2 separate regions of the Homo sapiens genome follow, and region 1 is linked to region 2. Evidence: fine-mapped expression QTL. Tissue or cell type: pancreas. Region 2 holds a variant in brackets; the other region holds the start of a gene. All regions are shown on one strand. Distances are between the middles of the regions. Region 1 holds the start of SLC36A1 (solute carrier family 36 member 1). Region 2 overlaps FAT2 (FAT atypical cadherin 2).

Evidence for each region. PIP is the estimated chance that this variant, and not a neighbour inherited with it, causes the effect.
Region 1: it holds the start of SLC36A1, and the variant in region 2 is fine-mapped to the expression of SLC36A1 in pancreas (GTEx, PIP 0.96).

The regions. Positions count from the first base shown.
Region 1 is chr5:151,438,477-151,454,264 of GRCh38, forward strand. SLC36A1 (solute carrier family 36 member 1) reads left to right here and starts at 9,127. Exons shown (of 11, transcript NM_078483.4): 1 at 9,127-9,337. RefSeq lists enhancers at 9,107-9,156, 13,560-13,729 and a cis regulatory region at 13,645.
Region 2 is chr5:151,504,099-151,516,287 of GRCh38, forward strand. It overlaps FAT2 (FAT atypical cadherin 2), which reads right to left. Exons shown (of 24, transcript NM_001447.3): 21 at 8,067-8,508; 22 at 5,923-6,076; 23 at 3,056-3,513; 24 at 1-1,999. The coding sequence ends at 1,467. It also overlaps a transcript of SLC36A1 not described here. Among named protein-coding and RNA genes, the nearest start is that of MIR6499, 12 kb to the right of the region's middle. The variant G/A (reference allele first, on the strand shown) is at 3,223.

The sequences.
Region 1 (15,788 bases), 64 kb before region 2:
GTACACCATTGGCCACTGCACATGATTGGGAAAGTCTTCCTTATGTTAAAGCAATATAATGTGTTTAAAGCTTGTTCTTTTGTTGAGCTCCTGTGTGAGCAGCATTTTGTTCCAAGAAGAGGAGTGTACTTGGGTCTCATACATGTGCTCTGACACTCCTGTCATTGTGATCCTGCCTGCAGGTTGTCAGGCAGAGGTGTTCTCTGGCATCCTTTGACATATGCTCTGCAGGTCTCTGTCACTGCAAAATTCACCATCTCTCATGCACTCTCCCAGGCACCAGAGACCTGGCATTGGTGGCAGAGCAGTCTTGTTTAATCACAGGACAGAATTTTGAATTACTTGCAACATTTTTTTCTGAGTCCTCAGAGTGCATGCATCTATTACCTTTGCCACATTTTTTTTCTTTAAACATATTTCATTTACCACAAAAATACTATTGATATAATGTTTTATTGGGTATTAGTTCGTTCTAACACTGTATTAGTTTGTTCTTACACTGCTATACTACCCGAGGCTGGATCATTTATGAAGAAAGGAGGTTGAATTGATTCACAGTTCTACATGGCTGGGAGGCCTCAGGAAACTTACAGTCATGGCAGAAGGTGAAGGGGAAGCAGGCACGTCTTACATGGCAGCAGGAGAGAGAGAGAGAGAGAGTGCAGGGGAAACTGCCACTTTTAAACCATCAGATCTGAGAACTCCCTCAGTATCACTAGAACAGCATGGGGGAAACCACTAATGATCCAATCACTTGCCACCCAGGCCCCTCCCTTGACACATGGGGATTACAGTTCGAGATGAGATTTGGGTGGGGACACAAAGCCAAACCATATTATATCATAATTACCTCCTTTCAAATCATCAAAAAATCACAATAAGAAATGTGTAAAACAGGCTGGACATGGTGGCTCACTCCCGTAATCCCAGCACTTTGGGAAGCCAAGGTGGGCAGATCATGATGTCAGGAGATCAAGACCATCCTGGCCAACATGGTCAAATCCCATCTCTACTAAAAATACAAAAATTTGCCAGGCGTGGTGGTGTGTGCCTGTAGGTCCAGCTACTTGGGAGGCTGAAGCAGGAGAATTGCTTGAACTCGGAAGGTGGAGGTGGCAGTGAGCTGAGATCATGCCACTGCACTCCAGCCAGGGCAACAGAGTGAGACTCCATCTCAAAAAAAAAAGAAAAGAAAAAAAAAAAAGAAAAAGAAATGTTTAAAACAATAGCATGGCCTGAGGCACATTCCAGTTGTATTGATCTGGCCCCAGCACTTTTCCTATGTACTTGAGCTGATGATTTCTTGCTTCAGTGGCTGTTTTTCATCTGTTCCACTCCAGTGCTAATTTACTTTATAGGAGACACCCTCCTAAGGCACCAGCATGTCATATCTGATGGTGTTTGGTCTTCTTTATAGGAATTTTATTTTTTCTAATTTCCACTCCAAAGTTAAGGAATTTTCAAATTCATTTTTCAGCACTTGTGCCACTTAATAAATTCTTGAATTTTGTTGTGATTGGGTTGCCAAATATTGAAATCATAATGCTGATGAATGCTTATACTACAGCGAAGAATTACCCAGACCACCCACAGGAGTTTCATGAGTGTGAATAACGGCATTGCTCTCTGTATAGTGACAAAAGTAGGTAGGCCTTTTGTATCCCTACGTAACAGTGTAGCATGCTTTACAGTGTAGCAGGCAACACTCACCGCAGCTAGGGATGGGGCTGCAGCTCTGGTAAAGGAGATACAGGAAGGGCACCTACAGCATCTCCTAAATGCCTCATAGGGCTGCCACGAGGATTGACTCAATCAACAAGAAACTAGTTCCTGGCACATTGTAAGCATATTTTCTTTATTTTTTATTTTTTAAGATACAAAACCTGAGAATTTTAGAGTTAGAAGCCACTGTAGGGGGCAGTGGTCTTAACAGAGAGAGGCTTGACAGTAGGGCCATCAGTCACAGAATGTTCAGGAGGATGGATCAGGGACCCAAGGGGTCTCAAAAAGAGAGAAGGAGAGGGAAAGGGGACACTGGGTAGGGTTGCTATGACATCTCAGGGGCTGGTACTCTTGAGGGCTTGGGATGGGTAGAGTGGTTAAAAAAAAAAAAAGGAAGTTACATTCCTCAAGACTATGGAATGCAAAAGGATTAATTTCCCTAATATCTCTCAGCAGCATAACCCCTCATGTTATATATAGAACCTTTAAGCGCCTGATCTCATCTGCTTTTCCAGCAATCCAGGGAGGGAGGCAGAACCAAGGAGGGTTTTCAATCTCACTTTCCTGATGATGAAACCAAATGGAGATCAAAAGTCTTGCCCAGGTCACCCAGCTGGGAAATAAGGGGAAAAAAACCTTCAAATTACTTTCTACCACTCAGCAGAAATAAGTCACTACCAGGGGCTGGCCACACAACATGTTAGCACATGGCTAAAGCAAGTCCCTTCAGAAGCTTGTCCTTTAGGGCAGTGGTTCTACAGCACGAGAGAGCATCAGACTCTCCTAGAGGGCTTTTCAAAATGCAGATTGCTGTGCCCCCACAACCCAGGGTTTCTGATGCAGTAGGTGTAGAGTAGGACCCAGAATTTGCATTTCTGCAAGTTCCCAAGTGATGCTGGTCTAGGGACCACACTTTGAGAAGCACTGGCACAATGGTTAAAACAGAATGCATGCTAGTGATGTGCAGTGGCATGCACCTGTAGTCCCAACTACTCAGGAGGCTGAGATGGGAGATCACTTGAGCCCAGGAGTTTGAGGCTGTAGTGTGCTATGATCACTCCAATATGGGCAACATAGCAAGACCTCATTTCTAAAAAAATGAAACAAAAGGCAAAGAAATGGAGTGCATACTCTAAGGCAAAGTTTTTAATAGTATGTGCTATAAACAAGAGGTTGTATTTAATGTATGTTAATATACATCAGAGCTTCTAAGAAGACCTATGAAAAAACAGTTCTGCACATATTGAAAGTGGAGGAGACAAGTGGGTAGAAGGGGGAGAAATGAGAAAATTGTGAAGAGTAAAAGTCTTAAGCAAAACAATAAGTACTGGTATTTATGATTTTAAATTTAAACACCATAAACCTGTATATTTCTATACATACGTATATATTTCTGTAATTGTATAATATAGGGTTTGGAGAACAATACACACATGCTGGCACCTGTAAACCTTTGGAGAGGGGAGTGAATTTGGGGAAAGGGGATTTTCAATTTATATATTTCTATATTGTCTAACTTTTAAGAATATATTAACCTATTATATAATTTTTTACTGAATATCTTAATGCTTTTATTGAAGTATAATTGACATACAATAAACTGCACGTATTTAAAGCATGTAACTTGATAAGTTTCAACATATATATTCACCTGTGAAATCATCACAATCAAGATGGTGAACAAATTTGTCCCCTTGAAAATTTCCTCATGCCGCTTTATAATCACCCTCTCTCCTGTCTCTCCTCCGCATTCCCAGGCAATGGCTGATGTGTGTTTTCCATTACTTTATATTATTTTGTATTTTCTAGAATATTATATAAATGAAATATTTTCCTAATGTCTTTTGCTTAGCATAATTATTTTTTGATTTATCCATGTATAATTATTTTGACATCCATTTTGTAGCTGTATTAATAGTATTTTTTGGTTGAGAACATAATTTTTGTTTTAAAATTATTTTTCAAATAAATGTTTTTGTGTATATTTAGCATTTACAACATGATGTTATGCGATACTTATAGATAGTAAAATTGTAACTATAGTGAAGTGAATTGCCATCTCCATCATTTCACATAGCTACCCATTATTTGGGGTTTCTTTTTTTGTGGCAAGAGCAGCTAAAATTTACTCATTTCACAGGAATTTTAAATACAGTGTGATTTTTTTATTTTTAAAAAGTTATTTTTAATTGACATAACTATACATATTTATGAGGTACACAGTGATGTATACAATGTACAGCGATTACATCAGGGTAATTAACATATCCATCATCTCAAACGCTTATTTCTTTGTGTTCAGAACATTCAAAACCCCTCTTCTAGCTATGTGAAAATACATCCTATATTATTGTTACCTATGCTCATCCTACAGAGCTATAGAACTGATTCCTATCTAGCTGTAATTTTGTATCCTTTAACAAATCTCTCCCTATCCTTTCCTTCCACCCTGCTCAGCTACTAGTAACCTCTGTTCTACTGTTTGTACAGTACAATTGTATAACCTATAGTCCTTATGTTGTCCCTTTGAGCTCTAGACTTATGGATCCTACATATCTGCTACTCTGTATCCTCTCAGCTGCATTTCTCCACTTCCTTCCTCCAGCACTCCTGGGCCCTGGTCACCACTGTTTGATTCTCTATCTCTGTGTATTTGACTTGAAAAAAAAGATTCCACATATAAATGAGAGCATGCAATATTTTTTCTTTCTGTGTCTGGCTTATTTCACTTAGCATGATGTCCTCTAGTTTCATCCATGTTGTGGCAAATGGCAGGACTCCTTTCTTTTTTTAGAAAAATGTTTGTATATATACCACAGTTTCTTTATTCATTCTGCTGTCAATAGACACTTGGATTGTTTCTATATCTTGGCTGTTGTGAATAAAGCTACAATGAATATGGGCATGCAGATATCTTTATGGGGTGGTGATTTCATTTCCTTCGAGTATATGTCCAGAAAGGGGATTGATGGGTCATATGGTAGTTCTATTTTTAATTTCTTTAGAAACCTTTATACTGTTTTTTTTAAAAAAAGAAACTTTTACACTGTTTTCTATAATGGCTGCACCAGTCTACAGTCCCACCAACAGTGTACTAGAATTCCCTTTTCTCGACATCCTCACCAATATTTGTTGTCTTTTGACTTTTTTGATAATATCCAACCTAACATGTATGAGGTGATATCTAATAATGATTTTGGTTTGCATCTCCCTGATGATTAATGATGTTGAACACTTTTTCATATGCTCACTGAGCATTTTTATTTCTTCTTTGGAGAAATGTTTATTCAGGTCCTTTGCCCATTTTTAAATTGGGTTGTTTTTCTATTGCTGAGTTATATGAGTTTTTGATACATTTTGGATATTAAGCGCTTATTAGACATAGGGTTTGCATATATGTTTTCCAATTCATAAGCTGCCGTTACACTTTGTTGATTACTTCCTTTGCTGTGCAGAAGCTTCTTAGTTTGATATAGTCCTATTTATTTATTTTTGCTTTTGTAATCTGAGCTTTTGGTCTGATATCCAAAAAAATCATTGCCAAGGCCAGTGTCCAGGAGCATTTCCCCTATGTTCTCTTCTAGGAGTTTTGTAGTTTCAGATCTTACATTTAGGCCTTTTATCCACTTTGAGTTGATTTTTATGTACGGTGTAAGATAAACATCCAATTTCATTCTTTCTCACATAAAAACCAGTTTTCTCAGCACCGTTTATTGAGGAGACTGTCTTTTCCCTATTGTGTTCTCTTGATGCCCTTCTTTAAAATTAGTTGACCATATATGTTTGAATTTATTTCTGGGCTGTCTATTGTGTTCCATTGGTCTATCATATCTGTTTTTGTGCCAGTACTATACTGTTTGGATTACTATATCTTTGTAATATAATTTTGAATCGGGAAGTGTGATGCATCCAGTTTGTTTTTCTTTTTCAGAATTGTCTTGACTATTCAGGGTCTTTTGTGGTCTCATGCAAATTTTAGGATTGTTTCTTATATCTCAGTAAAGAATGCCGTTGGGATTTTGATAGGGATTGCATTGAATCTGTATATTGCTTTGGATAGTATGGACATTTCCACAATGTTAATTCTTCTGATCCATGTGCATGGGATATCTTTTCATTTATTTGTGTCTTCTTCAATTTATTTAATCATTGTTTTATAGTTTTCAGTGTACACCCTATTCATGTCCTTGGTTAAATTGATTATTGAGTATTTTTTAATGCTATCACAAATAAAATCATTCTCTTTATTTCTTTTTTAGGTAGGTAATTATTTGTGTATAAAAATATTATTGATTTTTTAATTTTTTTTTGAGATGGAGTCTCACTCTGTCACCCAGGCTGAAGGGGCGCGATCTCAGCTCACTGCAACCTCCGCCTCCCAGGTTCAAACAATTCTCCTGCCTCAGCCTCTCAAGTAGCTTGGACTACAGGCATGCACCACCATGCTGGGCTGACTTTTGTATTTTTAGTAGAGACAGGGTTTCACCATGTTGGCCAAGCTAGTCTTGAACTCCTGACCTCAGGTGACCCACTGCCCTGGCCTCCCAAAGTGCTGGGATTACAGGCATGAGCCACTGAGCCCAGTCATGTATGTTGATTTTTATGTCCTGAAAATTTACTAAATTCATGAATTATAACAGTATTTTTTTAATCTTTGGGGTTTTCTACATATAGGATGATGTCACCTGCAGATAAAGATAATTTTACTTTTTTCTTTCTGATTTGGATGCCTTTCTTTCTTTTGCTTTTTTGGCTGATTGCTCTTGCTAGTACTTCCAGTACTATGTTGAATAGAAGTGGTGAGGGTGGGTATCCTTGACTGCTACTGGATCTTGGTGGAAAAGCTTTCAGTTTTTCCCTATTAATTAAAATGTTAACTGTGTGTTTTTCATAAACGACCTTATTATGTTGAGGAATGTTCTTTCTATACCTAAACTATTGAGAGTTTTTTTTTATCAAGAAGGTATGTTGGGGTGGGGGTTAGGGAAGGAAAAGATGTTGGACTTTGTCAAATGCTTTTGCCAGGCCAATTGAGATAACCATGTGGTTTTCATTTTTCATCCTGTTAATATGATGTATTATATTGCTTGATTAGTGTATGTTAAACCAGCCTTGCATGCCAGGGATAAATCCCACTTGGTCATGATACATAATTTTTTTGATTGTTGTTGAATTCTGTTTGCAAATATTTTATTGAGGATTTTGTACCAATGTGCATTAGCGAAATCAGCCTGTAATTTTCTTTTCTTGTGGCGTCTTTCTCTGGCTTAGGTATCAAGGTGATGCTGGCCTCATAAAATGTGTTTGGAAGTATTCCCTCTAGCTCCATTTTTTGGAAGAGTTTAGTAACAAACCTTCTTCTTTGAATGTTTGGTAGAAGTCAGCTGTGAAGCCATCTGGTCTTGTTGGGAAGTTTAAACAGAAAACCAGAAAGTCAGATAGTCCCTGTCTCATCTTCAATCTCTTTATTTGTTATTAGTCTGTTCAGGCTTTCCATTTCTTCCTGATTTCAATCTTGGTAGGTTGTATTTTTCTAGGGATTTCTCCATTTCATCTGGGTTATCCAATATGTTGGCAAATAATTGTTCACAATAGCCCCATATGATTCTTTTTATTTCTGAAGCTTCTGTTGTAGTGTCTTCACTTTCATTTTTTATTTTATTAGTCTTCTTTTTTTTCTTAGACTAGCAAAGGGTACGTCAATTTAATTTTTTCCAAAAAATCAACTCTAGTTTTATTGATTTTGTCTGTTTTTTTTTCTGTTGTCTATTTGATTTATTTCTGTTCTGCTCTTTCTTTTCTTCTTTTAACTTTGGGTCTTGTGAGCTCTTCTTTTTCCAGTTTCCTGAGGTATAATGTTAAACTATTTAATTGGTCTCTTTCTTCTCTTTTAATGTAGGCATTTATTGCTATAAACTTCTCTCTTAGAACTACTTTTGCTGCATTCCATAAGCTTTGGTATGTTATGTTTCCATTGTCAATTGTCTGAAAATATTTTTTAAATTTCCCGTTTGATTTCATCTTTGACCCACTGGTTGTTTCGAAGCATAGGACTGGGTATGGTGGCTCACACCTATAATCTCAGCACTTTGGGAGGCCGAGGTGGGCAGATCACCTGAGGTCAGGAGTTTGAGACCAGCCTGACCAACATGGTGAACCTCGTCTCTACTAAAAATACAAAATTAGTCGCGCGTGGTGGCACGTGCCTGTAATCCCAGCTACTTGGGAGGCTGAGACAGGAGAATCGCTTGAATCCAGGAGGCAGAGGTTGCAGTGAGCCAAGATTGCACCACTGCACTCCAGATGGGGCAATAAGAGCGCAACTTTGTCTCAAAGAAAAAAAAAAGCGTGTTGTTTAATTTCCACATATTTGTGAATTTTCCAAGATTCCTCCTGTCATTGATTTCTAGCTTCATATTATTATGGTCTGAAAGAATATTAATATGATTTCAATCTTCTTAAATTTAAGGCTTGTTTTTTGGACTAGCATATGGTCTATTCTAGAGAATGTTTCAAGTGTGTTAGAGAAAAAATGTGTATTCTGTTTCTGTTGAATGGAAAGTTCTGTATATATCTGTTAGGTTCATTTGGTTTAAAGTGCAATTCAAGTTCATTATTTCCTTATTTTCTCTCTAGTTGCTCTATCCATTGTTGAAAGTGGGATATTGACCCTCCTACTATTGTGTTGCTATCTATTTCTCCCTTCATGGCCATTAATATTAGTTGTATGTATTTAGGTGCTCCAATTTTGCATGCATATATATTTACAGTTGTGTCTTCTTGATGAATTGACCCCTTTATTATTAAACAATGATCTTCTCTGTCTCTTGTGACAGTTTTTGACTTGAAGCCTATTTGTTACATAATTGTTAAAGGAAAAGTCTGTAACAAGGAGGTAAAAGGAGAAGCCTAGATAATACAATACTGAAATGTTGCCATCCATTTAAAAATGTTACTTTAAAAATTTGAATGTATTAAAAGATAATGTTGCCCTACCCCACAGTTCCATTTCCAGTAGCAACCACAGATGATAGTTTGTGTATGCTTCTGAAAAATTGGAAGTTTTAAAAATATGCATATTTCTTATTATAAAAGCAATACAAACTCATCGAGATGTGTAAAAGAAAATACAGCCAGTGTAAAAATTAGCAATATTTCACAAACCCACAACTCAAGGGACAGTGCTCTTCGACTGGACTCTGCCCCATGCCCAAGATCAATGCCCTGTTCAGTTCCTATTCGCAGTCCCCAGCGCCCAGGAACATAGTCCTTCCAGCAGTGGCAGTAATAGGTCGCCAGGTGGTGCTGTGGAGCAGAGCTCCGGAGCTCAGTGAGAAAAAAGGCGCGGCCGCTCAAGGGAGCACGTGACCTCGGCCTCTGGCGTGGGCGGTGGGATCACGTGATGAGGTCCGGAAGCGGCTGCCGGGCAGCAAAGGAGGATGGCGAGGGGCTGATACTGAACCCGGGAAGGGTGGGCTGTGCTGAAGCCAGAGCCGGAGCCGGAGCTGGGGCCAGAACCCGAGCAGTGAGTTCCTCCACTGGCTGCCGGCTGGCGGCGCTCGCCGCCTTGGGCAGGACCCACCTCGCCTTCCTCCCGGCGTGGCAGATGCTCCAGGTCAGGCACTGGATCCGCCCGGGCTGTGGGTCCGCGACTCCTTGGCGTCCCCGGGCCGCAGCTGCGGTACGACGCTGACACCCCTCTGTGAATTGGGCGAAGCGTGGAGATCCCTTGTCCCTCGCGCTATCTCCCTTGACCTCGTGGGGTTGGGATCTCACCGTCCTGTTTGACTGACAGGTGGGGGAAACTGGGGTAGATGGTGAAGATAACCCAAAGGACCATCTAGGGCGTCTTTCACGCTTCGCACAGGTCTCCCCGTTTCCAGCAAATGTCTTGCCCGCTGCGGGAGCGCTGCTTGAGACAGGCTCATAATGGGTCTTTGGGTCAGAACTGCAAGGACGCTGGGAAGTCGTCTGGTGCAGCTCCCTCCTAGGACAGTTGGAGAAACTGAGCCCTTACTCCGGGAAGGGGTAAGGGCTTGCCTAAGGTCATCCAGTGAGTTAATCGGAGACCCGGAGACCTGCGACTAGAATGCAAATGTTCCTAAGCTTCAGCAGCTGTTTGCTTTTCGCCACACCGCCTCCTGCGGGAAACTTCACCTGTGAAAAGGCACTCCTTTCTGTCCCTTTCTCTTTTAGTCCTCTCCCTTTTTAGCTGTCTGCATTTTCCACCGCTGGGGTTGGATTTGCTCTGGGTGTGGTTCCCTGTTTGTTCATTATTTTTCTGCAAACTCATCCTTCTGTAGGTTTGGTTTCTAACCTTCCTGCATTCTATGTAAGTCACACCAAAATATGAAATATGAATCGGAATGTGCTTCTGGGAAGATAGGTGGCTGAGCCGAGGTTGTGGAGAGCCCTGACGTTAACTTGAAGAATGTAAAGACCTTTGCTTTATTTTTTCTGTAACTTGTCAGATTTGGGATTGCTTATTTGGATGGACGTTTTGCAGTTATTTGAATTTTGCTGAAGATAGCATCATGGTGCAATGGACAGAACAGAGATTGGGGAATCAGGATATTTTGTCCTAGCTCTGCCGCTTACCTGGCAACCTTAAGTGACTCGCGTTTGGGTTTCTCAGTCTAGACAGTGATGGAATTGAATTCTTAAGGGCCCCTTCTGCTGTGATCTGGATGTTGTGCATCTTTCTAGGCTTGTTTTTTTGTTTGTTTGTTTTTAAATAGAGATGAGGTCTCACTATGCTGCCCAGGCTGATCTCAAACTCCTGGGCTCAAGTGATCCTCCCACCTTGGCCTCCCAAAGTATTGCGATTACAGGGGTGTGAGCCAGTGCCCCTGACCAGGGTCTGTTTGTTTTTTTATTCCGAGAGATTTTACCCGCTGTGTACACTGAGTATCAGCCTTGCAACAAGACTTAATCTAATTGTGTAGGAAGCAGTTTCCTCTGCTTATTCCTCTGTTGCTATAAAATCCTCCTCCTCTTTCTTCCTATCTCTGTATTATGTCTAAGCTAAATACTAACAGCTGAAAATGATTTTTAACTGTCTGTTATTATTTTAAACATGATCAGGGCCCTCTTCTGACTCTTGTCTAGAGCCTCGTTTACAGTAATTAACTTACTTGTACATTTAGAACATGTTTTCGTTAAAAATGTTCTTGAAGTCAAGTGGAAAGGGACAAACTTTGTGTTTGTCTGGGGATGGAGGCTACGTGCAGCAGAGGCTGTGCTGATAACAGCTTTAAGCCTCTCCCTTTGTTTTCTGATTGTATCGTTTATATTCGCCTGCTCTGGAGTCCTTGTTTTCCCTTTAAGGCATGTAGCTGTTCATTCAGCCTCCTCTTGTGGCAGTTCGAAGTGCTCAGAGTTTTCTCTGTTCCAAAGGCGGTGTAAGAAAAAGGGATTCCATTTATTTTATAATATTCTGGAGACTACAACTGGGACCAATAGATGAAAGTGCCATAAGGGAAGGGTGTTTGGTAAGTGTTAAAAACTTTCAAAGAATTAGTGGTCTCCTGTATTAGAACACTGAGCACGGAGCTCCCTGTCACTGGAGGTAATCGTCTCTGGGCAATTACTTCGGGGATGTTGTAGATGAAATTAGATTGTTGGGTAGAGGGTTGGACTAGACAAAATTTTAAGTTTTCTTTCAACTCAAGAGTCTGTGACATTCTAGGACTGGACTTACTAGCATGTAGAGTGGATGGAGCAGATGTCCACTTACTAGCATGTGGGATGGATGGAGCAGATGTCCACTTATTACTAGCATGTGGGATGGATGGAGCAGGTGTCCACTTAGTGGCATGTAGAGTGGATGGAGCAGATGTCTGCTTACTAGCATGTGGGATGAATGGAGCCGATGTCCACTTACTGGCATGTAGAGTGGATGGAGCAGATGTCCACTTATTAGCATGTGGGATGGATGGAGCCGATGTCCACTTACTAGCATGTAAAGTGGATGGAGCAGATGTCCGCTTACTAGCACGTAGAGTGGACGGAGCAGATGTCCACTTACTAGCATGTGGGATGGATGGAGCTGATGTCCACTTACTAGCATGTGGGATGGATGGAGCTGATGTCCACTTACTAGCATGTGGGATGGACGGAGCCGGTGTCCACTTACTAGCATGTGGGATGGACGGAGCCGGTGTCCACTTACTAGCATGTGGGATGGATGGGGCAGGTGTCCACTTACTAGCATGTAGAGTGGATGGAGCAGATGTCCACTTACTAGCATGTAGAGTGGATGGAGCAGATGTCCACTTACTAGCATGTGGGATGGACGGAACTGGTGTCCACTTAACTAGCATGTGGGATGGATGGAGCCGATGTCCACTTACTAGCATGTGGGATGGATGGAGCAGATGTCCACTTACTGGCATGTAGAGTGGATGGAGCTGATGTCCAGTTTTGTGATTACTTTGTTTCTATTTATAACCTTGTCTCAGGTAACTATTCTCATATTAAGTACTCCTGCTTTTTCTTTCTTTTTATCACCACCACCTCCCCTCCAGTGAGTATCTCAGTTCTTTAAATGCTTGATATCGCTTCAAAGGTCAGATGAGTGAATAGTCTTCTGTTTCTGCTTTTCCTGGCCTGGTGCTGATAACCGCTTCCAAAGTGCATGACTGATTAGCATTACTCACACCTAGGCCAGCTTTTCTCTTTTTCCCATAGAGGAACTCACATGGAATCCGTTTATTTCCATCCAGGCCTTCTCTTGTTTCCCATAGAAGAAGCTCTCACTGAGTCTGTTTACTTCCACCCAGGCCTTGGAAGAATCCTGTACCTCTCTCCTTTGGCCAGGCCTTACTGTGATGAGCACATAAAGGTAGCCTCTACTTAATGGGCATGGGGGCCGATGGATGGGGCATTGTAAATAGGCTGAAATAGGAACCACACGGTGCTGCATTTGGGGTTGTCTCTTCTTTTATCCCCCAAAATATTTCTCTTGGAAGCCTTGACACCCAGGGCCAGTTCTTTTTTTACTTATTATTTATTTTATTTTATTATTATTATTTTTTTGGAGATGAGGTCTCACTATTTTGTCCACGCTGGTCTTGAACTCCTGAGCTCAAGCAGTCCTCCCACCTTGGCCTCCCAAAGTGCCGGGATTACAGATGTGAGCCACCATGCTTGGCCCCAGGGCTAGTCCTTAATGACCATCTCTAGTAGGAAAAGCCACTCTGTGCTTTCCTTTTCCATGAAGTTAGGAAATCTGTCTGTGGGTTACTGAGATGTTCATGTCACTTAGATCACCATCTCCAAGGTAGGGACCTGGCTTCACAATCCAGAGTTTTAAATGGAGCCCATACTGCAGACTTTGTTTAGTGAACTTTCTCACTTTCTGTCCTTGAACTTCTCTGTAGTAATAATCACAATTGCTATCATTAATGAGGGTTTATTATGTTCCAGGCAACATATCTAACATTTATTTATTTTTTCCTCCTATCTTCATAACAATATTGTGATGTAGATGTTATTAATGACATCTTTCAGATGAGGAGACTGTGGCAAAGGGAGATGAATTAACTTGCTCAGAGTCACACTACCAGACTGCAAACTCAGGTGCTTTTTATTATGCAGAATACCCGCTGCAGACCTAATCCTGCCCCAGGCTCTGGGGCCAGCTTTGTTCGCAGGGAGATTTTAAGGAGGGTATATAATTTAAGGTGTGGTAGAAAGAATACTGGACTGGGATGCTGGTTTGCTGGACTGTCATCTCAAATCTTTGATTTGACTCATCCTGGGGCCTGGATGAGTCAGCCTTTGTGTGTGGGCCCTGGTTTTCTGACCCCTAAGAAGGAAGCTGGAGCTTGACCTTCTCTAAAGCTATACCTGGCCCTAACATTTAGTGATCTTCATGGTTGGGAGTAAAAGTGTGCGTGTTTGCCTGTTCAGCAGCTGCTTTGTGCAGAACCTGCTGAGGTCAGCAGCTGCCCTGTAGCTGTTCTAGCATCAGACTCCTACAGGAAAAAGTCTCAATTTATGGAATGTTCTGCTCTGGTAAGTTGGATGGAATTCTATCTGATGCTGTTTTAAAAACAAATTATGTAGAAGCCAAACCATTTTACTTCCCTCACTGTAGACCACACATAGCAACACAGTCTGTGTCTTTGTTCATGTTTTTAGAATTCCATCGACAGAGAGGAGAAAATACATCTGGGGAATTTGCCGCTGCTCTGAGTTCCAAAGTCCAAACCAATGTAATTGTTTCAGAATAACGGATGACACTTTTAGCTTGCAAACAAGGGGCGCCAATGCGTGAATTCTGGTAGGAGGTGAGGCCTAGGGTGTACCTATCATAATAAGATCATATATTTTTTGTAGTGCTTTATATAAATCTACCTATAATCAAGATTACCTAGGAAGCTAGTTAAAAATAAAACGCCTCTTGCCTGTAATCCCATCACTTTGAGAGGCTGAGACAGGTGGATCCCTTGAGGTCAAGAGTTTGAGACCAGCCTGGCCAACACGGAGAAACTCCATCTCTACTAAAAACACAAAAAATTATCTGGGCATGGTGATGGACGCCTGTAATCCCAGCCACTCGGGAGGCTGAGGCAGGAGAATCGCTTGAACCCAGGAGGCGGAGGTTGCAGTGAGCCAAGATCACACCATTGCACTCCAGCCTGGGCAACAGAGGGAGACACCATCTCAAAAAAAAAAAAAGAAGACAAAAAGACAAAAACAACAACAAAAAAACATAGGCTGGGCATGGTGACTCATGCCTGTAATCCCAGCACTTTGGGAGGCCAAGGTGGGTGGACCACCTGAGGTCAAGAGTTTGACACCAGCCTGGCCAACATGATGAAACCCCGTCTCTACTAAAAATAGAAAAAAATTAGCCAGTTGTGGTGGCGCATGTCCGTAATCCCAGCTACTCGGGAGGCTAAGACAGGAGAATTGCTTGAACCTGGGAGGCGGAGGTTGCAGCGAGCCAAGATCGCACCACTGCACTCCAGCCTGGGCAACAAGAATGAAACTCCATCTCCAATAAATAAATTAAAATAAATAAATAAAATAAAATAAAATAAAATGCTAAGGTGGAATCAAGTTGGGCCCAGAAATCTATTTTTTTTTCCTTGACGTATGTTTCATTTAACCCAATATATCCCAGATATTATCATTGCAATATATAATCAGTATAAAGATTATTAATTCATGGGATATTTCACAATTTTTTTGTTACCAGTTCATTGAAATCTAGTGTGCACATTTCAATTTTACCCAAGTGTATTTCAAGTGTAAGATAGCTATTTATGGCTAGTGGTTACTGTACTGGATGGTACAACTTCAGAATATGTTACCATCTATTGATCTTAATCCTCCTTTATTTTGAACAAACCCAGTCACTAAAAAATTGAAATTGGAATCCTGAAACTTTAGAAGTGAAAGTGTACTTAGAAATCATCTAATGCAGTTTTCTCAATTCTATATCAAAATAAGAAAACAACTTTGGGATTAGAATGACAGCCAGATTATGTTCTCCTGAGTCCTGAATCCCATGCTGTTAAAATGGGAACATTAGCATTTGAATTTATTAGAAAAATTTCTGGCCTTGCCTTAAAAAAAAAAAATCACTGTAGAATTCCCCTTAAAATTGCCCACTTCTGAAAAATTTAACACCTACAAATTTTTATTTTTAAAAATAGAATAAAATTTATTTTATTTTTAAAAATAAAAATTCAGTTTGCACATACATTTTCCATATTGCATCCGTTGCACAAAGTGATTCCACCTGCTCATTTTTAGTGCCCATCTAAAAATGGCATATTTTGTAGATTGAAGAGCAACACTTGTCTATTTATACAGCTAAAACAATAGTTACATAAGGAAAAAAAAGGAATGTTTTAAGGTTTGTACACTTAAATTTTTTTTTTTTTTTTTTTTTTTTGGCCATCAAACTTGCAGACTTTTTTTACTCAGTTGCTCACTCTTCTGAGTCTAAATATCTAATGGAGATTTGGACTTTGTGTTCTGTTTATTGTCCTCAGTAATCTGAAGGACAAGCTTGCCTTCAACTCTCACATAGTACAACCCTCATTTAGACA
Region 2 (12,189 bases):
AAAAAAAGATACTTTATTGTTAAAAAAAAAATGACCAATGAAACTATGTATCTGTCACTCACACTCACAGTCACACACACAGCCACAAACCACTCACACAAATTGGCTCTCGCCCACACATCTCCCTCTCGCATGAAGCAGCAGCCCTGTGGGCAAGGCTCCACTGCTCTTCCTTTTGACTTCTGTCTCCAGAAACAACACATATGAAAAGGCAGTGGACCAGAGGGAGGGACTGGGTGGGAGGGAGTGGTGAGGTCACCAAAGGCCACAGAGGCTTCTGGTCCCCACCACTCCTGGCTACATACACTCTACACATGTGTACACACGTACTATCCATGGGCACCCACATGTGTAGACATGTGCCCACATTGACCCTCCATGCATAGGGTTGAGTCGCCGCAGGTAATACTTGATGGGCAGGCGTCTGCAATGGAGAGGAGGCAATGGCAGGTGTCCAGCCTGGACACTGCGGTCCAGCTCCCTGCTTCCAACCGGCCCTAAATAGGAGTTCAGACTTCCTTGTGTCTAGGGAAGAAAAATCCCATTGAGGAAACTCATCCAGACAGCAAGGTCAAAAAGTGCCTAAGAATTTTTAAAATGAAGAATTAGTTCCTTCCTTCCTTTGGCCAAAAGTGCCTGGGAAACTTGGGATGAAGAACCCAGAGTTCCATGAGGTCTGAATTCTTTAACAAAGAAGGTTCAGAGCTGTGTAGACTCCTGGCAGGCCCTGACTGGCAGCCAGTGGTGTGACTCTGAGGTGGGCCCGTTCCTCTGCGTGTAGGCTGAGGAGTGGGACCTCTGGGGCCCGAGGCCTGGTGGTGCTCCTCGGAGTCCTTGTTGCCCTCCATCACCATTTTCTCCCCGGTGCAAAGCACAGTGCCTGACGTGGAGCAGACACTTGACAAAGACACAGTGAGTGCTCGACTGAGGCAGGGGCAGAGGGGACTGTGCCCGCTCCCCTGCTGCTCACCTCTCAGCCCCTAGGAGGATGCCACGCAGCCCTCTAGAGCTCCTCTGTACGGCCCGCGTAGTGGTTGTCTGTCAGGCACCAACCTGCCTGCCTCCAAAATGGAGCTGTGGGCAGGTATGAGAATGCATCTTGGTGAAGTTGAGCCAGCACAGTCAATCAGGCTCTGCCCCGGGGACTGAGAGCCGGCAGATCAGGGAGCCCTCCTGTCTCTCGCCCACCCCGGGAGTCAATTGTTCCTGGTTTTCCAGGGTCACTGCTCTAGAAATGCCCCTCTCCTGGGACCCTAGTGCTGTTTCTGGAGCTCTATCCTCAGCTTCCCTCCACCCTCAGGGACTAGGTGGGGGATTGGAAGAGCACATTTCAAGGGACAACAGCCTGGGCTGAGGGCTTCCCTCCCACTCTCCCAGCCACACTCAACTCACCCCCTACGAGACAGGAAGAAATAAGCCAAGTCCAGTCCTTGGCCTCCCGCCTGCCTTGCTCTGGGAATGGGAAGCTAGAACATGACCTCCTCACAGCTGCCATAATCACTCTCCACCATGTCAGAGCCCTCATAGTTGGGGGGCACCCGGGGCTGGCCCTGGCCTGCAAGAGGTGCCCCCTCCACCTCACAGACAGCATAAGAGGGCCCAGCTCGGCTGAGGCGCATACCCACCCCCTTGTAGCCCCCGTCTGCCAGGCAGGGCCCTCCCCCTCCCTGCCGGAACTGCGAGTGGTAGTAGCTGATGGCCGTGTACTCATTGAGACAGGGGGCAACCAGGCGCTCCCGGGGACTAGGGGGCCGAGAGGGCATCAGATCTTCCAGGTTCTGGTTGCTGTAACGGGGTGGGAGAGGTGCCCGCTTGTTTTCCATCTCCAGGGGGAAGGGGAAGCCCCCATAGAGGCCATTAGGCTCTGGCATCACGACTGGGGTTGAGTGGCGGTGAGCCGAGGGCGGCAGAGGGCCCTGAGTCACTTCGGAGTGGGGGTATTCCCAGCGTTCGTTCCTGGAGTAAGTAGGGGGCCAGACCATGGCTCCGCCAGGGTACACTGAAAGGGAACAGCAAGATAGGGTGAGCTCATTTTCTCCCCGGAAGGTTTCAGCTGGCTCTATAGCAACTATATATAACCTAGCGAGTGGTGGAGATGGGAGTGGGTGGGCATAGGCCCATCTGTGCAGGTTGTCTCTGTTGGCTTACGTTGATAACATAGAATCCAATGGGACAAGCTCAAGGCTAGAGGTTTGACCTAAGGCCAGCCCATCTTGCAAATCCCTGCCACTAATCTGAGGGTCAGTGAACAAGGGAAGGATTTGGATGTCTCCATGCAACCCACCCCCACAGCTGGATACAGTAACTCCATCCCAAGTCCTACTGGTGAGTTTCATCCCCTTAACTGAAGGAAACACACACACAGTTTGGACTCACTCACAGGTGTGATGGAGTCTATCATGGAGAGTGATGAAATGAGATGTGGCTCGGAAATCAGGAGACCAGGAGCCCTTGGTCCTAGCCCTGCCTCTGCTACTGAATAGTTGGGTTAGTTAGAACAAGTCACTGCATCTTGATGGGCCTCGGTTTCCGTATTTGACACATAGTGAAAATACCTATCATAACTGCTAATGATTATGCCAAAACATGAAGTGCTTTACTAATGCACCCCCTTTTGAGCCAAAGATGAGAAGAAGGTGATATTCCCCCTCTAGGTCAGCCAGGTCTGGCCCAAGGCTGCTGCACTTCCACACTGGGCAACCAGAAGCTTAGACCACTTCTCCTTTCCCTTCCCAGAAAAGCACAAATGTGCAGAAGCCCCCTTCTCACTCCAAGGGTTCTACCCAACCCTATCCAGGGTCTACACATTTCTGTCATGAACCTCAATCCCATGGAGTGACTTGGAATTTAAAGGAGTGCAATAGAATGAGCCTCAGAAACCTGGTATCTGCTCCAGCATCCGTGCCCTGTAATCTTGAACACATCTCATCATGTCCCATCCCAAAGGGTTGGATGCGTGGTAGCTAAAAATGCCTGTGCCTCAGATAACGGAGTGTTTAGAACCACCACCCACTTCCATCAATCCCAGAGGCTAAGCGTCTCTGGCTATACTGACCCATCTCCTCGCTGGACCAGGTTCTCTTAATGACAGGCTCATTGTCAGAGTGGGAAGGGACCGCAGCTGGCGGGAGTCTGGGGGGCACACTGCAGACCACTGGCCGTTGCTTAGAATTGGGTCCAAATGTGACGAGTTCATTTGGAACAGAGGCCTTGCTGGGTTCC[G/A]GTTGGTTGAGGTTGTTGCAGGAGCTGGCACTCAATGGGTTGAGCTCGATGGCAGGCATGGCTTGGGTGTCAACACCAACACTCCTGGCCAGGAGGTCTGGGTCCTCCATGGCCACAGGCTTGTGAGACTTGCAACGGCGGCAGTAGAAGAGAAGCCCGACAGTGCTTATGATAATGAACGCCACGGCCACTGTGATGATCAGTAACTCCTGCTGCCCCCAGTCCCCCCTTTGGATCTCGGGAGTGACTAGGCAGTGTCCTTCTGAACAACCCCTCGCCTCCATTTCACACCTGCGGAGACAGAGTAGTCAGGGGGCCAAGTCATGAAATTGCCCTTTCCATGTCCCCTCTTACAGAGATCTATGGGATAGAGACTGCTCCCCCCAAAACCTACCATCTCCCGTTTTTCACCCCCCAAAAAAGTAACTATCAAGCATATCAACATCAGAACTTTCCACCTTCCACCAGTAAAGTATGGGTCTCAGCTACATCCTCATTTGTGACCATTAGGATCTGGGAATGTCTATTATTTTTCCAGCAATGAGATCTAGGCACTGTATACACTCTCTATCATGAGGTCGGATTTCCTCCCATATCACTGCAGTAGAGACATCGACTCTCTAGCAATGATGTCAGGGTTCCAGATACAAGTCAGCATTGCCCAGTTATAGCAGCCAGGCACCAATGTTCCCTGCTGTGCTTCACCAGGAGGTCACAGGAGCCAACGTGGTCCTGCACAGATCAGCCACCTTACAATGGGCAACTTGCTCAGAGAAAGCATGCGAACTCTCAGGGTACCTCTAGCTTGGCATTCCATGGTGTGAAGCTCCAGGGAAACTTCTGTGGCCAGCTTTATCCACTTTTGAGGGCTATTGGGAAAGTTTGCCCCATCCCATTTGAGTCCAAAACATTTCTCAGTGCCCGAAATGTCACTACCAGTTGTTTGTTATTTTGGGTTAAATGTTGTTTTCCCCAAGGTCCTCTTTTAAAATGCAGACACCACTTTCAGCTGTGAAATGTCCTCCCAACACATCTCGTGAACGAATAGCATTCCCGACTGCAAAGCAGGGCAGGACACACCAGTTGCTGAGAAAAAGGACTGAAGTCGACTGGGCGCAGTGGCTCATGCCTGTAATCCCAGCACTTTGGGCAGCCGAGTCAGCGGGATCACTTGAGGTCAGGAATTCAAGACCAGACTGGCCAGTATGGTGAAACCCCGTATCTACTAAAAATACAAAAATTAGCCAGGTGTTATGGCACATGCCTGTAATCCCAGCTACTTGGCAGGCTGAGGCAGGGGAATGGCTTGAACCTAGGAGTCAGAGGTTGCAGTGAGCCGAGATTGTGCCATTGCACTGCAGCCTGGGCGACAGAGTGAAACTCCTTCTCAAAAAAAAAAAAAAAGGACTGGGGTCATCAGCATACCCAGAGTAATCATGGGAAAGCCCTTTCCCTGCCTGGGCCTCAGTTACTGCAGCTGTAAAATGAGTGGGTGAACTACATCACTGGCTCTTATACACAGGCTAATAGCAAAGGGATCCACTGAGAGCTTGTTAAAAATAGAAGCTAGGCCCATTCTTGGAGATTCTGATTCAGTTGGTCTAGGCTGGATCTTGGAATCTATATTTTTCATGTCTCTTTCATGATTCTTTAAAGGCTCCCAAGTTTGGGAGCCCTAAAACCAGATAATTGTCAAAGTCTCTTTCTCTCTAGGATTCTAGGAATGACAGTTTCCCTTGCAACTGCCACAGCCCCACACAGTATGAGGCACAGACAGCTGGCAGTGGGGTTCCAGGCACAGCAGCACCTGCCCAAGTGGAACCATTTTCCCCAGGTCACTGGGAAGTTCAGGTCCAGAGTGAGAGAATAAGCACTTCAGCCATTTTCAGACTGCAGCAAGGACCAGAACTACCTGAGGAGCTGGTTAAATGTACAGATTGCTAAGCCCCAGCTTGTGATTCTGAGACAGTATGTTCAGAATAGGGCTGGGGAAATCTCTAATAAGCAGCTTCCTCCTCCAGAAGTGTTGTAATGCAGGTGGTTAGAGAGAGACACCCTAACACAATGGTCCACAACCCCTGGGTCACGGACCCATACTGGTCGGTGGCCTGTTAGGAGCCGAGCTGCACAGCAGGAAATGAGCCATGGGTGAGCAAGCATTACCACCTGAGCTCCGCCTTCTGTCAGATCACTGGGGGCATTAGATTCTCACTGGAGCACAAACCCTGTTGTGAACTGTGCATGTAAGGGATCTAGTTTGCATGCTCCTTATAAGGAGCATATATCTAATGCCCGATCTGTCACTGTCTCCCATCACCTCCAGATGGGACTGTCTAGTTGCAGGAAAACAAGCTCAGGGCTCCCAACTGATTCTACGTTATGGTGAGTTGTATAATTACTTCATTATATATTACAATGTAATAATAATAGAAATAAAGTGTGCAATAAATGTCATGTGCTTGAATCATCCTGAAACCATCTCCCGTTTCTCCTGCCTGGTCCGTGGAAAAAGTGTCTTCCATGAAACCGGTCCCTGGTGCCAAAAAGGTTGGGGACCACTGCCCTAACAGATGGAAAAGGCCTAGAAGCCAGGTCCCTGCAGCACTCTCCCCTGGCCTCCCATTGGACTTTCTAGAGGTCAGAGTACAGAGCGCATTCCCTAACAAGGAGCCCATGGCAGGTGGCCTCTCCTGGGATTACCTGTCTCCTGTGTAAGGATGAGGGCAGTTACAGGAAGCTCCTTTGGGGGAGAGGATGCAAGTTCCACCTTCCAGGCAGGGTGCAAAAGTACAGTTCTCCCTTCCTTGTTCACAGTGCTTCCCAGAGAACTGTGGGGGACATTTGCAGACATAGCCTAGGAGAAAAAGAAGGGAGGTGAGAGACCGCACTGGCCTAGCAGTTAAAGGAGACCTGGCATTGGCAGACTGGTGTGTTTGTGCAGCCGTTCAGTTACCATTTATTTATTTGGTTGCTCCCCTCTGTGCCCAATACCGTGCTGGGCATTGGTGCCCTGCTGAACCAAGAGCACTTTGGTCCCTGCCCTCAAACAGCTTACAGCCCACCAGAGACAACAGTCACCTAAAGAACAGTAATAAACAGGATAACAACCATAGACACTAACTTAGTGCTAGTCACTGTTCCAAGGATCTTCCTGTGTTGGCTCATTTGATCCTCACGATGACCCTGAGGTTGGTGACTGTCATCATCCTCATCAGGGGACAGGTACAAAGGGATGGCAGATGAGGAAAGGAGGCACAGAGAATGGACAGAATTTGCTCAAGCCAGTAAATGGCAAAGCTGGGGTTCAAACCTAGACAGCTAGCTATAATATCAGTATCTCAGTAATTATAATAAAATTAATTTTATTGAAGGGAAATGCTGGGAGGGGTGGGGGATGAGGCTAGCTTACTCTAGGGATCTGGGAGCTATTTCATTTGAGATCTGAAGGATGAGTAGAAATTAGCTAGGCAAGAAGCTAGAGGGCAAAGAGAAAGGTGTTTCAGGCGGAAGAGAAGAGTGCGTGCAAAGGCTAGGGAAGGGTGTGGCATGGTCAAGGAACTCAAACCACACCAGGGTGGGCCAGCCTGGTGAGGGACAGGGAGAGTTTGAACTATGGCCTGGGAGGTGCAGGAGCCACATGCAGGGATTGGGACTCTATCCTAGCAGCATGGCGGCCACTGAGCAGTTCTCAGCAGAAGAGTGCCATGCACAGGTCTGTGCTGGATAAAGATCACCCCGGCTCCTGCTGGAAGGTGGAAGGCCGGGATAGAAGCTGGAGAACAGGGAGGAGGCTGGTGCCAGGGTGAGAGGTGATGGGGGCTTGGGACAGAGGGACAGCAATGGGGAAAGAGAGAAGTGATGGATTCCTTGGATATTTTGCAGGTAGAAATGACATGATTAGCCAGACAAAAATCAGAAAAAGGGGTAATGCGAAGTGTTGACAGGCATGTCACATGTTGACAGGCATGTGGGTACATAGGAACCTCTCATGTTGTGTGTGATGTATAGAATAGATGGCTGAGAGGCATGTGGGTACACAGGAACCGCTCATGTTGCATGTGATGTATAGAATAGCCATGCTGAGAGCAATGTATCCCTATTTAGTCAAAATAATTATTTGCATACTGTGAGCCTGTGACTTCCACCCCTGGGTGTCGGGTGTGTGTGTGTGAAGGAAACTCTCACACAGCTTCACAAGGAGACATATAGGAGAATGCTCCCTGCAGCATTGATGATGGAGATGGGTGTTTGGAGTGCGAGGGTGGAGAGGGAAAATGTGAGTGCGTGTACATCATGGAGTACTGAGCCACAGTTAGAAGCAATTAATGAGAATTGCTCATGGCAGCATTGACAGATCTTAAAAATATGGTGCTGAGCGAAAGCGTAAACAACATATACCACTTATATAAATTGGAAATTCAAGCATATGAAAAACAACATGTATTTTGCAAGAACTCATTCAAAAACTGTAAATGTTTGCCTCTAGTGTTAGGGAAGGGGAAGGGAGTGGAATATAAGTTAAAGGGGAATGAGAAGGAGACTGTGCATAGACCAGTGATGACACTAAGGTATGTGATTAATTCAACCCTCTGCCCCTGAGGTCCCCATTCATATCCTCCCTCATCCCCCCAGAAGTAGAAAGATAGTTTTTGTTGAGAGGGAAGGAAGACTCCTGGCTTCCCCTAGTCTAGATATTGCAGATTCCAACCTGTTACTCACAAGTTAGGGGAAGAGAGAGAAATTTGGAACCAGGAGGCTCTGAGATCTCCACCCTGACATGCTTTTCCCACCTGAAGAGCCTTCTGGGATAAACCCTGGGTTCAGCCTGGCACCCCAGCCCTCACCTGCCCCATGGGTCCATGAGCACTTCCCACCATTGAGGCATGTGTTCTGGCTGCAGTAGTCACTGTGGAGGCAGCACTGGGTGAGGGCTTGTGTCTCCAGCAAGCCTGCCACCGTCTTGCCAGGGGCCAGCAGATCTAGAGCCTCTTCGTTGACCACGACAGCATCCAGGCAGCCTTCAAAGCCCTGGGAGACATTCGAGGAAGAATGCAACAGAATGAGGCCGCCCAGCAAGAGGTGCCTTTCGGGCCTCAGACCACGGCAGTTCTCTGGGACCACAAGGGAGGTGTTGCCCATGCTGTCAACCATCAGGCGAATGGAAGCGTCCATCTCCTCCACCAGGATGGAGTGCCACTCGTGGTCATTCACATGGCGCTGGGAGGAAAGGTTTCCATAGAAACCACCCAGACAGTGGTATTCCAGCTGGGGCACTCCACTGGCCAGCTGCAAAGGAAATCCAAACAGCCATCAGCAAAGCCAAGGAGTCCTTGTAAACCTGCTAAGAGGCTGCCAGTTCAAAGAATGTTGTTTGTATTTTTATGGGTAGGAGGGGGGTGTTTGGCTGTTTTAGACATGGCATTTGCAGAGCATAAAAACCCTCAAAGTGCTTTTGTGTTGATGGTCTCCTTTGTTCTCACCACACCCCATGGGATGGTCTGGGTAGGGGGTGACATCTCCATTCACAGATGAGGAAACTGAGGCCGAGAGATGCTTTGCTGATCAAGACCCTGTATTTTGGATGCTTCTTCACAGGCCTGTCCAGAGTTCCACACTTGTGAATATTGGCCTTCAGCGATTTGAAAAACCTGTCTCCCACTCCCACTTCCTTATTCAACAGCTTAGCAGTTCTCAAAGTAGGTCCCCAAGACCTTTTCAGGGAAGCCACAAGGGCAAAGTATTTTTATAGTAATCCTAAGAGTTGATTTGCCTTTGTTTTCTCACAAGTATACAACAGAGTTTTGGAGACACATGTTGTCACAACTGATGAATGCAGAAGTAAATATGAGAAGCCAGCTATCTTCTATTAAGCCAGGCAAAAGAGAGGCTTGCAAAAATGTAAAACAATGCCACTCTTCCTTTTTCTTTCGGAAAGTAATTATTTTTCATAAAAATATATAAAGACATACACTCATATGTTGATTGCAGCACTTTTCACAATAGCAAAGACATGGAATCAACCTAGATGCTCAACAACAGTGGGCTGGATAAAGAAAATATGGTACAGATACACCATGGACAACCATTCAGCCATAAAAAAGAATGAGATTATGTCCTTTGCAGCAACATGGATGGAGTTGGCGGCCATTATCCTAAGCAAACTAACACAGGAACAGGAAATCAAATACCACATGTTCTCACTTACAAGTGGGAACTAAATGCTGAGTACACAGGGACGCAAAGAAGGGAACAATAGACATCAGGGCCTACTTGAGGGCAGAGGGTGGGAGAAGGTTAAGGACAAAAAACTACCTATCAGGAACTATGCTTATTCCTTGGGTGATGAAGTAATATGTACACCAATCCCCTATGATACATCGGTTACCCGTATAACAAACCTGCATATGTACCCCCGAAACTAAACTAAAAATTGGAAGAAAAAAATTATTTAATTAATTAAGGTATTTATGTTGACATGTGAGTTTATTATTTCTAAATAAATTAATACATTTTTAAATATCTCAGTTTTAATGTCTAATACTGAATATGTTGATAGTTATAACCCACATAACCAAAACTTCCCTGGAATCCTCAATAATTTTCAAGAGTGTAAAAAGTCCTGAAGTCAAAAAGTCTGAGAACCACTGGGTTAAAACATTTTAATTCACTTCATTCCCAAGAGGTAGGACTGCCTGTGACCAAATACTTTTCTGGTCACTTTGGGCTAGGTAGAGTTTTCTCTGTTGAAATTTGAAGATCTAACCCAGTGTTTCTTATACATTGGCTATCTGTAGACCACCTCTCAGATTTTTGCCCCAGTTGAATACTACCTATACCTTTATTTACTTAAAAAGGAGACACTATTATTAGGGTAAATAGAAAACCAACACACTTGCCTTTAAGAAAGGGGGATAACAAAAATGAATGCAACTCAAGTAAAACATTGCAATGAAATCATTTCTTTTTATCTGTCTGGGACCACAAATCTGTTGATCCCACCGTCTTTTCATTGTCTCCCACCTCTGTAATGTCCTCGTTCCTCTCCTTATCCAGTTTAAGTTCCATAGTCAATCATCCTAACTACTCCCTTCACATACTCTTGACCTATCTCTTTCTTACTTCGTAGAACTCTCTTGGTAAACCCACAACTATGGAAAAAGCTAACTCTCCACCTGCTCTATACAGACATGGAGCAGAACATGGCTGGAGAAAAACGTGCAGCTTTGCTCACGAGCCTCTCTTTAATTTCATGACCATGGCTCTCAAATGAGCCTTTAATGCTGCCCAGCAATCACACTCCCTTCCTGAGTCCATCCGTTCTTCCAGATGACTGTTTTCACTACGTCTCTCTCCTGAGATCCCTAATGCCTCCCTCCTCATTCCCACTCTCAGCTGATCATCTCACATCCTACTGAAATCATCAGATGGGGGAACCTGCAGGCACTTTCACCATCACATCTATCCACCTTAGCTAAAGCCAATCTCTCCATTTATGCACTAGATTCTACCTCCTCACCTCCTCAAGGGTCTACTGATTCTCCTTCCTCTTTCTTACATCTTTGTTCGTTCACCACTATATCATTCCACAGCATACACACATGGTGTTATTGCTCTAATCTTTATTTTCAAAAATATACCTTCTTTACAGATGATAATCTTTATTTTTTTAAAAAAGGTTGTCTTCACCTCAGTTTTCCAGCCAGATATTTTCCTTCTTTCCTGTCCCTTTTCCGCAAAATTTCACCCCAACCCACCATACACGGAAACCATTGGTGTCAGGGGATTCAATGATCTCTGTGTTGCCAAATCACTTCCCATCTTACTGGCCTCTCAGCAGCAGATCACCCAACAGATCACTCCTTCCTTCTTGATACGTGTTCTTCACTTGGCTTCCTGCATACAATACTCCCTGGGTTTTCCTCCAGCATCACCGGTTACTCATGTTCAGTCTCCTTTGTTGAATCCCCTCTTCCCCCAGACCTGCTAATGTTGGAGGGTCTCAAGGAGTAATCCTTGGCCTACTCTCTCTTCAATCTACATTGCTTGGTGATCTCCCATCTCATGGCTTTCAGTACCACGTATGCGCTGAAGACTCCCAGATCTCCATCTCCAGCATAGACCCCTCACAACATTAGGCTTGTCTTACCAGATCCACTTGGAGGTCTAATGGGCATCTGAAACTTACACATCCGAAACTGCACTCTGATCTCCCCTCCCCAAACCTTGTATCCACCCATACCCTTCCCCAGGCCTGCTGGCACAAACTCCATTCTTCCAGTTGCCCAGGCCAAAATCTCACTACTTGCCTTCTCTCCCACCCTTCATTCAATTCACTGGGAAATCCTGTTGGCTTTGCCTTCAAAATCTTTGTAGAATCTATCTTCTTTCCAATTCCTCTGTCATCACCCTGGTCTAAACCACCATCCTCTCTTATCCAAATTATTGCAGTGGCCTCCTGACTGGGTCTCTCTGCTCCTATCTTTGTTTCTCTAAAGTCGATTCTCAACAAAGAAGCCATGATGACCCTTTTAAAATAGATCATTGCAATTATCTGCTCAAAACCTTCTAATGCCTCCATTTTGCTCAGAATAAAAGCCAAAGTCCTTACAATGTCCTACAAGACCTTCATAGATATGCCCCATCCCATTACGTCTCTGACCAACTCCTCCTCCTACTGTTCCCTTTACCCACTTCACTGGAGCCAGGTAGAACTCCAACCCATTGCTTAAACATGCTAAGCATTCTCCTGCCAAAAGGCTTTCACATTGCTATTCCCTCTATCTAGAATGTTGTTCCTTCCAGATGTCCATAGAGCTAACTTTCTCACCCTCTCCAAATTATTGCTCAATTATTATCTCAATGAAAGCTTCCCTGGCCACCTTATTTAAAATTGTAAAATTGTAACTCCGGCTGGGCATGTGTTTCATGCCTATAATCCCAGCACTTTGGGAGGCCAAGGTGGGTGGA